2 separate regions of the Homo sapiens genome follow, and region 2 is reported to be linked to region 1. Evidence: microRNA targets listed by miRTarBase, many of them from high-throughput screens and not tested one by one. Region 1 holds a microRNA gene; the other region holds the end of a gene's coding sequence.
The links. Region 1 holds the annotated microRNA hsa-miR-6085 (AAGGGGCUGGGGGAGCACA, at 1,603-1,621, shown strand). A microRNA usually pairs through its seed, bases 2 to 8, with sites in the 3' UTR of a target mRNA and lowers its output. Matches are read on the target gene's strand: a 7mer-m8 pairs with bases 2 to 8, a 7mer-A1 pairs with bases 2 to 7 and ends in A, and an 8mer does both.

Region 2: miRTarBase lists PKD1 as a target of hsa-miR-6085. Seed matches in the 3' UTR shown: 7mer-A1 at 2,853-2,859.

What each region holds. Positions count from the first base shown.
Region 1 is chr15:62,341,509-62,346,019 of GRCh38, forward strand. MIR6085 (microRNA 6085) reads left to right here and starts at 1,521; the gene lies at 1,521-1,630. RefSeq lists an enhancer at 3,524-4,024.
Region 2 is chr16:2,086,492-2,090,497 of GRCh38, forward strand. PKD1 (polycystin 1, transient receptor potential channel interacting) reads right to left here. Exons shown (of 46, transcript NM_001009944.3): 45 at 3,794-4,006; 46 at 2,217-3,703. The coding sequence ends at 3,236. It overlaps TSC2 (TSC complex subunit 2), which reads left to right. Exons shown (of 42, transcript NM_000548.5): 38 at 241-380; 39 at 1,372-1,450; 40 at 1,557-1,648; 41 at 1,736-1,834; 42 at 1,955-3,000. The coding sequence ends at 2,119. MIR1225 (microRNA 1225) reads right to left here and starts at 3,793; the gene lies at 3,704-3,793.

The DNA.
Region 1 (4,511 bases):
TTTCCTTCAGGACATTGACATTTTTGAAGAGTACAGGCAGACATTTTGTAGACTGTTATTCAATTCGAATTTGGTTGTTTCTTCATGGTTAGATTCAGATTAGGGCATATTGGCAGGAATGCTACAGAAGTGATACAGCTCCTCGGCATATTCAATTCTGGCAGGAGAAGCTTTGAAGAAATCAGTTTAAATTCTTCTCTCTGGAGTTCTCCTTCCTTTCTGCCATTTGAGCAGATAGGAGATCCTGGCCTCCTTACCTCAGGGGAGATTTGAGGCAGGGCAGGAAGTGGTAGTCCCTTCAAGGCCCCTTCCTGGCTTTTATTTCCAAAAGCATAGGCTTATTGAGACAAGATAGACGGACTTTGAAGGAAGCAGAGGTGGGGAAAGAATTGTCTCAGACCCAAAGGAAATTCCTCCAGGGTAGAGACAGGAGAGAGAAGTGTGTGATTCCTACAAGGAAACAGGACCAGCATCCTATTCCCTGGCAGACCTCACGAGGTGGCAGGACCTCAGAGGGAAGCACTGTGCGATGCCCCAGGCAGGCTGCATCCTAGGCCTGGGCCCCAAACTTAACAAAGGCTTCTGTGCTCCCAGTAGAAGAAGGCCCAACACAGCTGGCAGCCCTGAAGCACGGTACAGACTAAGACAGTGGGGGCCTCCTCACTGCAACCTGGGGGCCTCACCAGTGCCTCGCTCCAAGAATGGCCAGAACCTCTGTGCTCCCCTAGGACATCAGCACAGCCCTAGCGATGACTGCCCAGCAGTCACCGGACTTGAAGGTTAAATTAAGTTTATTTAAGAAAAGCAGGCCGGGCGCGGTGGCTCACGCCTATAATCCCAGCACTTTGGGAGGCCGAGGCAGGTGGATCACAAGGTCAGGAGATCGAGATCATCCTGGCTAACACGGTGAAACCCTATCTCTACTAAAAATACAAAAAATTAGCCGGGCGTGGTGGCGGGCACCTGTAGTCCCAGCTATTCGGGAAGCTGAGGCAGAAGAATGGCATGAACCTGGGAGGCGGAGCTTGCAGTGAGCTGAGATTGCGCCATTGCACTCCAGCCTGGGCGACACAGAGAGACTCCATCTCCAAAAAAAAAAAAAAAAAAGCAAACACGGTCAGGCACGGTGGCTCACACCTGTAATCCTACCACCTTGGGAGGCCAAGATGAGAGGATCACTTGAGCCCAGGAGTTAGAGACCAGCCTGAGCAACATGGTAAGATTCCGTCTCTACAAAACTGCAAAAATTAGCCAAGTGTGGTGGTTCAAGGCTGTGGTCCCAGCTACTCAGGGAGCTGAGGTGGGAGGATTGCTTGAGCCCAGGAGTCTGAGGTTGCAGTGAGCCATGATTGTGCCACTGTACTCCCACATGGGCAACAGAACGAGACCTTGTTTCAAAAAAAAAAAAAAAAAGAAAAGAAAAGAAAAAAGAAAAAAAGCAAAGGAAATGCAATATTTCTCTTATCCCCAAATTTATGGCTGAAATTCAGGCCTGCTGAACACACCCCTCACTGCAGCCTGTCTACCAGGTGTGGGCCCAGCTTTACATAGTTCATGCTGAGGCCGGGATTTCATGCAGAAAACTGGTTGCAAAAGGTGCTGAAGGGGCTGGGGGAGCACAAGGGAGAAGGAGATCACCCAGACATCAGGATGCTGGCACCCGACCGGCCAGCACGGCACTGGCCTGTTGGAGGCTTTGCCACTGTGCTGATGGGGCTGCGCGGGGTCCTGATCGGGAACCAGGAGCCCACACCCTCTGGCTGCTGCCGTGGCCAGAGGTCCCTTCAAGGGGCCGGAGGCCACAGAGGCTCATTTCTTCTTCCTGCTTTCACCTTCTATCAGTGCCTCTCGCAGGCAGACCCCCAGCAGAAGCAGCTGGCAGAAGGAGGGTCTTGGAAATGTAGTCTGGCTTCTGCCTCCACTGCTGCACTCCAGGCCTGCAACACCGAGGACTCCGCAGAAGAGGAGAGAAGGACCGCCGGCCCTTCCACACACACCCGGTGCCATCTGGTCCATGGCCATTTGCCTTGGCTGCCAGGAAAGCACCCTCCAGTCAGCCTCTCACCTGCAGTGGAGGATGTAAATGTTAACCAAAACCAACAGAAAAGAATGGAATATGAGCCACACCTGCACAGGTGCGGGCCGGCTCTGGGCCACACATGGCCAAGGTTGGCCTTACTGTTCAAATTGTCGGCCGTGGAATCCATGGTTAGGAAAACCTGATGCTTTATTTTGTTTCTTTAGCAACCATTCAGGATGACTTCCTTACATTTTTTCAATTTCGATTTGTTCTATATTTCCTAGGAGATAGGGCAGAAATATTTGACTCGAGTGCTACACAAAACAGGAAATTGCATTTCACCGGGTTTTATTATTGCTGGTTCCCTTTAGCTCCTAGTGCACTTCCAAGTCAAATGTCTGCCTTTGAACAAGTGGCAAATTTAGAGGTAATTCAGAGACATTTATTGACAGCCTGCTGCTACTGGCCTGACCCTAAGAATTTAAAAAGAAAAGGAAAGAAGAGAAAAAGAAAAAATTGACACAGTCCTTATCTTTAAGTAGCTTACAGTTTTGTTTAGGAATGAGGCTTCTGCACATGCAACTTGAAGAAACAAATAGAAACAGTATAACATATTCTACAGTTTTGAAGTCTGTGATGCAGATTCTAAGGATGACAGAACAGCTATCTCTAAAAGGATTATATTTGGAAGGCAAGGAGAGGGCAGGGCAAGTTCCTAGCATGAAGAACTCTGACAGCAAAAGAGAGAAGTGAACAGGCACCTGGGAGCTGGCAGTAAGATTGCTCAGCTGCCTGAGGGAAATGCAGGTCATATGCTTGAGGGTCTTGAACATCAGTTTGAGAAAATTGAACTTCATTCTAAAATAGCCAAAATGTGGTCACGAAAGCAATGACAATTATAAACCATGTTGTCATCATTCTGGTTTTATAAAATATCACATATAAGCAGCCTAAAAGATGCAATATTTTAATCAACCTGACTCTTAAGTAATTAAGTTCTGTAAGACTAATAATTAGGTGTTTATAAAATACTGATTCGTTAGGTATTAGAGAGCAAATATTTTATCTTATACCTCAATGTATTTTTTTCTCCTAAAATACAAAGTATAAATATTCCCCACTCTGTGACTCCATTTGATTCCTGAGTAGGGGAAGTGAGATTAGATAGAGTGCTGTCCATTTCTATGTGGCCCCTAAATTCTTGAATTAGGAAAGCAAGGGATTCAAGCTCTAACTCAAAAATGTATCCCATTGTCTTCCGTCCCTGAATGCATATGGGGAGGGTTAAGAAAGCAAAGCTGGTCTATACCAAACTTTCCAGGGCTCCTTCCCTCCTTCCATTCCCACCCCCACTTTCCTCCCTGCTCCCCAGGGCCTGATCCAACCTGCCCGAGTAAATAGCCAAGGCCCCAATCCAGGTCAGCATCTTCTATCAACTGCTTTTAGGTGGGGAAGCTGATAATCAAGCCTTCAAACCCACCTGCTACTCAGGCGCGCGCGTGCGCGCACACACACGTACATACGCACGCGTGCGCGCGCACACGCACACACACACACACACACAGAGACACACTCGTTCTGTTGTTAACTTTGAGAAGAGTCCCTCTAGTGGCCACCTGTACAACACCCTGTGGGACCCAGATGTCGCTGAATGGCTGACATTGGTAGGTTTCCTCACAGTGGCTACCTACACTTTAGGTTTTCTGAGTGGGAGAGGTGGGAGAGGAAATGAAGAGTCGGCTTTAGCCAGATTGTGAGGACTTTTGTGGCTGGACTAAGGACTTTGGCCTTTTCCTTATAGCAATGTGAGATGTTGGGCATCCAAAGTTTTAGAGGAGACAGTGAAGTGATCAGTTCTCGATTTAATAAAGACAATGCTTGCCTTCAGTACTTGGGTGACTATCAGAGGGTAAATGATGATAATGAAGTAGCTAGCTTAAGACAGAAAAAGTAAGCCATAAAAATAAAATAAAATAAAATAAATAGGTCCGGGCGTGGTGGCTCAGGCCTGTAATCCCAGCACTTTGGGAGGCCGAGGAGGGTGGACCATGAGGTCAGGAGTTCAAGACCAGCCTGACTTAACATGGTGAAACCCCATCTCTACTAAAAATACAAAAATTAGCTGGGCGTGGTGGCGGGCACCTGTAATCCCAGCTACTCAGGAGGCTGAGGCAGGGGAATCACTTGAACTCAGGAGGTGGAGGTTGCAGTGAGCCAAGATCGCACCACTGCACTCCAGCCTGGGTGACAGAGCAAGACTCTGTCTCAAAAAATAAAAATAAAAATAAAATAAATGGAAACATCTTTGTATGTGCCTGGCTCAGTGCGAAGCTAAGAGGAAGGCGCTGCACCTCCTCATTTACCAGGCTGAGGGGGGTAGGTACAGAAACTGGCATAAGACCTCTTAAAATGCTATGCTCTCCACTGCCTCCTCAATCCCCAAGGACAGTGTGTCTCCTTCTCCATCACCGCTCTCCCACGGTTTGAGACA
Region 2 (4,006 bases), not on the chromosome of region 1:
GCTCCCCACGCCTCAGGTTCCGAGCCTAACAGCGTGGGCATGGAGGCAGTGATGGGGCTGGTGGCTTTGCGTCCCAAAGCCCTGCCCCTGGGGAGAGCCGAGGACCACTGGCCAGGCACCAGAGGACGTGGTCCCCGCAGGCCCCCAGAGCCCCTGGAGTAATCAGGAGGTGCCCCAGTGCAAGGCACAGAGGGCCTCAGCACTGGCCCCACAAACCCATCCGGCCCTGCTCACCCTCAGCCGTCTTCCACATCGCCACCCTGATGCCCACCAAGGACGTGGACAAGCACCGCTGCGACAAGAAGCGCCACCTGGGCAACGACTTTGTGTCCATTGTCTACAATGACTCCGGTGAGGACTTCAAGCTTGGCACCATCAAGGTGAGTGAGGGGCCGTCAGTGAGGCTGGGCCCCAGGCAGGTGCCCACTGCTGTGTCCCGGGTTGGTGGCAGGTCCTCCTCCCTGAGCTTCGGTCACGAGGAGCAGGAGGAGAGGCCGCAGTGCTCAGGGCCCCGTGGGCACGAGCTTCACCCCGAGCCTGCGTTGTGTCCTCTGTGCCCTGAAGCCTGTGGCGCCTGCTGCTGAGTGTCTGTCAGGAGTAACTGGCAAGTGCAGACTGGGTGTGCTGGGTGGGCACAGTGTAGTTGGTGCTTCCTGTCTGTCCGGCGCGGCCCTTGGGCCCCCACCATCTCCCCAGTGGCAGCTGTCAGGCTGCTCAGTTGGTTATCGCCACGCACCACTAGGCAGCAACCAGCGTCACCCTCTTCCTGGAGGTGGGCTGGGTCGGCCAGTGTCACAGCACGGTCCGGGTGAGCCCCAGCATGGCGGGGAGAGCTGGCATGGCCCAGGCAGGGCAGATAGGCTGGAGGCCTCACTCCAAGGGCCCCAGGATGCTGAGGCAGCCACTGAACCAAAACCCCGGGGCTGGTAGTCAGAGTCCAGGAGGGGCAGGAGCATAGGGAGGTGGGCTCTGCTAGATGCCAAGACAACCAGTTGGGGGGGGGGGGGCACCTGGGCGGCTGAGGAGGGTGTGGTGGTGCCGAGATGGGGTGCACGGCTCACTTCATGGCTGGGCAGACGGATTCGGACGTGTGGCTGCAGACACCCTGGGGGCCCCAGTGAGTGGAGGTGCCCCAGCAATTAGAGGTGTCTTGCCTGTGGCTGCAGCATATGTGGGTGCTGCGCCCAGATGTGGAGGGGGCTTGGCCTGGGGGAGGCCAGACAAACACAGCCCCGCTGCCAGAGGGGAAAGTTCAGGGGCAGATGCTGCCCATGGAGCTGACAGGTGTCTAGCAGTGCAACCAGGCAGTAGCCGAGATCAGCCTTCAGCACACGCTGTGTGCGGGGATGACCCTTTCTCTTGTCCGGGCAGGGCCAGTTCAACTTTGTCCACGTGATCGTCACCCCGCTGGACTACGAGTGCAACCTGGTGTCCCTGCAGTGCAGGAAAGGTAGGGCCGGGTGGGGCCCTGCAGTGCAGGAAAGGTAGGGCCGGGTGGGGCCCTGCAGTGTGGCGCCAAGAGCCCTGGGCCTGGCGTGACCACCAAGTCTCCCCAGACATGGAGGGCCTTGTGGACACCAGCGTGGCCAAGATCGTGTCTGACCGCAACCTGCCCTTCGTGGCCCGCCAGATGGCCCTGCACGCAAATGTGAGTGGGGGTGGGTCCAGGCGTGAGCTGGTGGGACAGGCCCAGGTGCCACCTGATAGTGAGCTCACCCCCTGCCTACGTCCCCAGATGGCCTCACAGGTGCATCATAGCCGCTCCAACCCCACCGATATCTACCCCTCCAAGTGGATTGCCCGGCTCCGCCACATCAAGCGGCTCCGCCAGCGGGTAGGGAATATGGGGCTCCCTCAGCGGGGTGTGCTGGCTGCCCAAGCTGTGGGGCGGGTGTGTGGGCAGAGCGGTTGCCACGCCTCCCAGACTTACTGCCCAAGCCGCCTCTGCCTTCAGATCTGCGAGGAAGCCGCCTACTCCAACCCCAGCCTACCTCTGGTGCACCCTCCGTCCCATAGCAAAGCCCCTGCACAGACTCCAGCCGAGCCCACACCTGGCTATGAGGTGGGCCAGCGGAAGCGCCTCATCTCCTCGGTGGAGGACTTCACCGAGTTTGTGTGAGGCCGGGGCCCTCCCTCCTGCACTGGCCTTGGACGGTATTGCCTGTCAGTGAAATAAATAAAGTCCTGACCCCAGTGCACAGACATAGAGGCACAGATTGCAGTCAGACAGCTCTTTTATTGACTTTGTCTGCTTGGTGCGGGGGTTGGGGGGGTGTCGAGGCTCTAGAAGCGGCCATGCCCACAGAAGTGGTACACAGAAGCAGGCACAGCCAGCTCCGAGGGCCTTGAGGCTGCCTGGGCCATACAGCACACTCGCGCGTGCGCGCGCGCACACACACACACACACAGTCACCTTCCTCCACCCTGGGAGCCAGCCCCCAGGAGGAGTCTTTTCCTCTAACCACCCTGGGGTCCTCTGACATGCCTAGTCCTGCTACTTGCCCAGACCTGATGCCAGCAGGCCTGGGCGCTGCTCTCTTGCTACCTGGCCTGGGGCAAGGGAGGATGACAAGGCCTCTGGGGTGATGAGAGTGCCTGGCAGACAGCTGTGCCCCCAGCACCGGCCCAAGGCCAAGCTCGCATCCAAGCAGCAGCCGGGCTGCCATAACGCCACCACACCTACCAAGCGCAGCAGGTGTTGGGGGAGGCCAGCTCTGGGCGCAGGCCCCTCAGCCCTAGTGAAAATAGTGACATACAAAAATATACACATTTTAACACCATATAAATTACTGACACGAGACACACAGTGAGACGGTGCAGGGAGTACGGTAGGAACTGGAGAGGTAATAACTTAGGGGCAGGGTGGCGGCGGTGCAGGCTAACCCTCCCTGAAGCCAGCAGCCTTAGCAGTGGGGGACATCTGCCCAGGGGGTGGGGCCGGGCACAGCCCGCTGTACCTGAGGACTCGGGGAAATAAATTAGCATCTCAGAGGCTAGAAACCGTCCAATACTGCTGTGTCCTTCCCAAGGGAGCTGGGGAGGGGACCCTGGGTCCTGGTTGGCCACACAGCCTCTTTAAAGTGCTGAAGCCCACAGACAGACAGATGCCCCTGCCTGCTCTCTGGGGAACCTACGTGCAGCCATTCTGCCTGGCCCTCGGCCTTGACAGCGGCAGAAAGTAATACTGAGCGGTGTCCACTCCGACTCCACGGCCCACCCCCGCCAGGAAGGAGGACTAAGTGCTGCTGGGGTGGACCTTGTTCTTGGCCCGAAGGGGTGTCCTGCTGGGGCCAGTGGCCAGGTCCACACCCCGACTGGCCCGGGCAAGGCGGCTGGGCAGTGCTGGCCGCAGGCCCGGGGATGGGCCACGGGAAGATCCGGCGGGCGCCCGGCTGCTCCTGCGGCCTTGCAGGCTGTGCAGCTGCTGCTCCAGCTGGTAGACGTCCTCTGTGGCCTGGTTGAGTCGGTCAAACTGGGTGAGCAGGGCCTCGAACACGGCTTGGAGGCGGGAGGGCTCAGGCTCACACCTTGTCCCCAGCCGGCCCAGGCTCACGCTCAGCCCATCCAGCTGGCTGGAGGAGGTGGAGGGGTGCGAGGCATCGGAGCCAGCGCTGGGTGGGGGCACATCCGGGGATACCTTGGAGCCCCTGGAGGAGCGAGAGGGCAGCGGCTCCATCCCTTCAAAGCGGACTTTGTGGCGGAACTGGGGGCGGCACAGGGGCTCAGTCAGTCCGGCTGCACCCTGGGCAGAGCCCAGGGCGTGTCCCTCTCCCCCCCACTGGGCCGTACCCACCTCCTTGACCTTGCTGAGGCCCATCCAGAGGCGCAGCCTGCGCAGGAACAACTCCACCATCTCGTAGTCCTGGGGCTCCCAGGCCGGCCGGTACAGCTCTCCACGCAAGGCGTGGTAGCGCCAGCGGAGAATAACAGCCCCCAGCCGTAGGGCGCCCCACAGCCGCAGTGCCCAGAGCCCCACACACAGCAGGGGTGACAGGTGCCAGGACTC